Regions from separate parts of the Homo sapiens genome. Here region 2 is linked to region 1. The links come from fine-mapping of genetic effects on gene expression. Tissue or cell type: whole blood. Region 1 holds a variant in brackets; the other region holds the start of a gene. All regions are shown on one strand. Distances are from middle to middle.

What was found. PIP is the estimated chance that this variant, and not a neighbour inherited with it, causes the effect.
Region 2: it holds the start of LYRM4, and the variant in region 1 is fine-mapped to the expression of LYRM4 in whole blood (INTERVAL, PIP 0.91).

The regions. Positions count from the first base shown.
Region 1 is chr6:5,174,393-5,177,076 of GRCh38, forward strand. The region is part of intron 2 of LYRM4 (LYR motif containing 4); the gene reads right to left. The region is part of intron 3 of LYRM4-AS1 (LYRM4 antisense RNA 1); the gene reads left to right. Among named protein-coding and RNA genes, the nearest start is that of MIR3691, 27 kb to the left of the region's middle. The variant T/C (reference allele first, on the strand shown) is at 1,423.
Region 2 is chr6:5,259,464-5,262,147 of GRCh38, forward strand. LYRM4 (LYR motif containing 4) reads right to left here and starts at 1,487. Exons shown (of 3, transcript NM_020408.6): 1 at 1,185-1,487. The coding sequence starts at 1,270. FARS2 (phenylalanyl-tRNA synthetase 2, mitochondrial) reads left to right here and starts at 2,050. Exons shown (of 7, transcript NM_006567.5): 1 at 2,050-2,197. RefSeq lists an enhancer at 718-767 and silencers at 978-1,287, 1,348-1,567.

The DNA.
Region 1 (2,684 bases):
ATATGCATCTGTCCTGCTTCCGGCTCCAACCAGAAGTGGTAATGAGGAGAGACAGACGGATGCACAATGATAGTCTTCACAAAAGCTCGAGTTTCAAAATGAAAGGGGAGAGTACTCAGCGCGTCGCATCCTGTTTGGTGTCACTAGGACCTTTCTTCTCAGAGGAAGGAGGCTATTTATAAACTTAATGGTTACTTCAAGGAGGGCAGGCAGAAAAATAAATCTTTAGCTTCAGATTTCTTAAATCTTCTCTTGGTCACTGTTTATTTTGTCTAATTTTCTATAACTTTTATTTAGTCTTTACACTTATAATTGGTAACTGGAAGGTCCCCAATACTAAATTAAGGTGTGTATATATAAACATATATTATCCCCCCTCTCTTTTGAACAGATGTTGTCATGCTTAGGACAAGTTTAAATTCTAACAAACGTCGAGAAAGGCTGAGAATATAAAAGATAAGCAAGGCTTAACGTCAAAATTGAAGCTCTCTTTCAGTTTTATACAGCTAATCATTAAAGTTCTGCTCCTCAGCCAATTCAGCTTAGACACATCACACACGTAATTAATGCACAAAATGCTGCCATTCATGTGCAGATGAAGGAAGGATGCGGTCTATTTATTGAGCGCCTAGATTCTCAGTTACAAGAATTCTTTGCAAATATGATTTAAAGTAAGTAGTATTTAAAGAAGCAATGGCATTCCAGACCCCAATGTGGAAATTTCTGGGGATAAACATAAATGTGCAATCTTAAATAATGCCTTGTTTTATGAGTTCTGGGTCTTTCAAAGAGGGGCTCAGAGCCAGTGCATAGACAAGAGCATAAACCCAGATCTCATGGTATGCTTTTAAAACATTATGAAGCAATATTTCAATATCTAATTTCACATTAAAATGGGAAATCTGGAAACACAAGGACTTCATTCCCACCTCCGTTTGGAACAGCTGTCCTTTAAAACGTAGAGGCCTTCTAGTCAGCCACAGCGCCCTCCACTGGCACTTCTACACATGCCAGCCTCATCCTTCACTTTCCTGCTCGACCTGTGGATTCAAGAGGGAATAGGACACAGGTGGAGTTCTAGGCCCTTATCCTTGAACTGGATTGAGGAAGGGATGGGAGAGGAGAATTAAAGAAGAAAATCAGGAAAAACCATTTCCTGAGGTTTCCAGGATAAAGGGCCAGTGGAATACTAAGGAGAGGGGGCCTGTGGTGGTTTTAAAACAGGGTCACACATTTTGTGACACCCCTGCCATTGAGAATCGGGGGTCTATGTTCCCACACTTTGAATCTGAGCCTGTGACTCCTTTGACCAAAAAAATATGGCAGAAATGAAACTACATATTTCCAAGGCTGTTTCACAAAAGGCCACACAGCTCTGCTCTGTCCTCCAGAACACTCTCCTCTGCAGTTCTGCCCACCAAG[T/C]AGGAAGTCGCACTGCTCTGAGGCTACCACGATGTGAGGAAGCCCCGGCCACACAGACATTCTGCTCTACAGCTGCTGCTGATCCTGGCCTAGGCACCAGACCTGTCTCCGGGTGATTCCAAACCCCAGCCATTTGAGTACACCCAGTGTTACAGTCTTCCCAGCTATGGCTGATAGCATGTGCACTATCAGCATTCCCGGCCCAGATAATCTGTGAGTTATAACAAAAATGGTGGTTGTATTACGCTATTAATTTTTTTTTTTTTTTGAGACAGAGTCTCGCTCTATTGCCCAGGCTGGAGTGCAGTGGCGTGATCTCAGCTCACTGTAACCTCTGCCTCCCGGGTTCAAACTATACTTCTGCCTCAGCCTCCCAAGTGGCTGGGACTACAAGCATGTGCCACCATGCCTGGCTAATTTTTGTATTTTTAGTAGAGATGGGGTTTCACCATATTAGCCAGGCTGGTCTTGAACTCCTGACCTCATGATCCACCCGCCTCAGCCTCCCAAAGTGCTGGGATTACAGGCATGAGCCACCGTGCCTGGCCTACGCTATTAAATTTTAAGGTGGTAGAAACAGATTGTTGGTATACTAAGGCCTACGGAATACTAAGAAATTATCTGAAATGGCTTCTTTGGTGCTACCAGTGATACTGTCTGTTAGCCTTTGCTGGGTTCTAAGCTTTACCTGAGATAATCAAATTGAGTACTCACCTGTCTGCTGTCCGTTCCTCCCCTCCTCAGGAACCAATGGGAAGGAGGTTTCCTGGGCAGTTTTCATAGACTGCACCCTGATGAGCAGTGTGGTTTAGAAATAAGTCTTGGCTGTTACTGAGGCCTGAAGCACTGAAGGAAGTGTGCTTATGTTATGATCTGACAGAGTTACCTTTGAAAATGAAGTTTCGGTCTTCATCTTGAACACAAGGATAATGACAGCTGATTATCTGTTTCTTTCACAGTGGTTAAAAGTTTTGGTGAATGTGTATCTCAGATTTCTAAAAGTGTGAGTATATAATTTCATCTACAATGGCATGAGGCAGAAGTATAAGTTCTGAAAGCTCCTGTACATTTCCCCAAGCTTCCCATCACATAATTACAAATGAGTAGTGTTGTCCACAGGAAGATACTTGTTTTAATACTCCAAATAACTTATTTCAGTAGCACACATTTTGATTAGGATTGTTGACTGTTTGAAAATATCTCAATAGATCCCCTACTGTGTAAATGTCATACATGTGCACAAAACTTGAGAATGCCAATAG
Region 2 (2,684 bases), 85 kb after region 1:
GACCCAGATGCTGTTTTCAAATTTGCAGCATGAGTATATTTTCCAGGCGGGTTTCTAAAAATTTGAGAGTCATTGCTTAAGAGGCTTAGCGTTCCTGTCCTCTGACAGAGGTTGTACTGGGCAGACCCATCTCAGGGCCTGCCAGCTCACACACGTGCTGGAGGGGGGCCTACCTAACCAGGTGTGTTCCAAGGGTAGGCTCTGCTCTTATGACATCCAATCCACAGTCTGGCCAGTCACCTAAGTGAGGCTTGAGGTAAAGAGATGAGTTGATCCAACCAGATTCTTTCTCATGGGAATATGGCTCAAACTCAGAGAGAGACAGGTAGTTAGTAAAAACAAAACAAAACAAAAAACAAATCTAAAAAAAAATGCAGAGAGAGAATCCATAAGAAAATGATGGGTCAGAACCAGCAACACTGTGAAAGCAGAGGCTCTGAATTAGAAAAAACATACAAAGAGTAACAATAAAAGACTCATAGGCAAATAGGGGAGTGGGGAGGCGTGAGAAAAAGTGAATGTGTTATATTAAAGATGTGAGTTTAGGCCCTCAATATCCTGCTGTCAAGGTCCAGTAAGCGGGATCTCTGTCTGGTGAGCCAGGAGAAACTGAGGTTTCAGCTCCAAAGCTTGTGAGACCCTTTTTCCTTTTCCGCTACGCATTTCCACCATACCCTAAATAGAATGGATTCTTGCAACCAAAAGAACTCATTACGACACCTAGGAAATTTTAGGGAGGTGCTAGAGTGTGCCTTCAGCTTTGTCGCAGTGTACTACTCACTGGCCACTTCCACTCTCAACTCTTCCAGTGCTCAAGGGAAGTTTTACATATGCAACACACTGGCCTTAACTTCACAAATGACTGATTTCCATCCCTTTTTTCTCTTCTGCAGAAACATAACACTAATCATGCTCCTAGAATAACTACCAAGATAGCCTTTAGGGGGAAAACGTCACAAGACATGAACGTCTCCCCTGGTAGAAAGAAAGGCTCCTCCCCGAGGTCTCAGAGGCCACACCTGTAGGCAGGAGCACGCTTTTCGATGGCGGAGCCCGGTCCTTGCCTCGCAGCCGCCGGCAAACCACGGTGGCTCCCAGTCCCCGGGGATATTCCGCGTCAGCCCGCACCCCCGGTCCCCGGCCCCTGGCCCCCCGCCCCCGGCCCCCGGTGCCCGCTGGGTCACCTGTAATTGTAGGCGCTGAAACGCTTGCTCTCTCTCAGCATCGCCCGGTACAGAGATAACACTTGTGCGCGACTGGAGGCTGCCATTTTGGAAAGAAAAAAAAATAAACGGGTCCTCTTCGCCGAGGTCCCAAGTACGACCCAACCCACGAAACTCCAGCCTGTGCGGAAACCACGAACGAAATAAAATGCTGCGGCTCGGCTTTGCCAGCGGGCCGGGCCTAAGCCTAAGCGGGCAGCCCTGCGGATCGCGGACGGCGCCAGGCGTCCCGCGCCGCTTCGGGGGCGGGCGCAGGCAGGGCTCGGGGCAGCTAAGGGGGCGGTGCTGGGAGGGAGATGCCTCCGCCCCGCCCCGATCCCGCCCCCGCCCGGAGGCTCGGGACCCAGCAGCCGCTCCACGCGGCGGGAGGGCGGGGAAATAAGAGGACTGGCCGCCCGTGCATCCAGCCAAGCTCCTGGCGGACGGATATCGGAGGCCCAGGCATTCGAGGGACGTGCAGTTGCATCACGGAGAGCCTTTGGGAACCGTCTGGGGTCTTGGCGGAGACATTTGTGTTTCGGGGGCAGCGCCCCTTCCTACATCCAGGAGGCCGCGTTGCCCGGGTTACCGAAGGCCGCCGCACCGACGCCCCGCCCCTGACCGCCGATGCCCCTCCCACGCCGGCTGCGGTCGCCCTCGGCGCTGCCTGAGAGAGTTTGCGGGATTTCAAGGGTGACTTGATTTCGCCTGATCCTGGTCGGCAGGGTGGGGTTTCTTGGCATTCCTCAGGCCGGGGGATGCGACGTCTGGGTGTGGAGGTGATGAGCTAGGGGTTCTGTGGCACTCCGGCTCTGCTCAGGGCGACCTGCGTAGGGGCCTCTGGGGCAGGCCCGCTTTCTGTCAAAATGGCAGCGCCCAGCGTGCGCGGGTATCTCTGAAGTTGGGGTTTAAGATTCTTGCCCGTGAGAGCGAACGAGCCTGCCGTACTTCTGATTTTGAAACACCTGGGTCTGGGCTTCCCGGGCGAGCGGTGGGTGAGTGCCGGCCTCATTGCAGCCTGGGGTACGACGTGGGCGGTTGGTGTTGTAGGGGGTTTACATTGGCCGTGGATTTTTTCCTCTTTCCGGATGTGTTTTTGCTTTTGAGTGAAGAGTTCCCGTGGTTTTGTAACCTAATAAATGCATAAAATGCAGCTTGGGTTGTAGACTTTGGAGAATAATTAGAGACCTTTAGGGCTTTAGGCTTTCTCCAAGAAGCGGAGCAAGTTTTCAACCATGGCTTTCTTCAGAAGACTGCAGCTTTTTTGAATCATCTTATTAAAGTGGTGGATAAAGTTGCTTGTTCTGATCTTTGAGCATGGCACTGGACGCAGGAAGCTTCAGCCAGTCCTAGTTACTGTGTTTGCAAAGCACTTTTCTTGTTTTTGGAATCTTGCTTTATGTAATCAACCTTAGGAAGAACCACACCTTTCTGCACTCAAGCACAGCGAGAAGTACGTTATGCGTGAAAACAAAACAACTT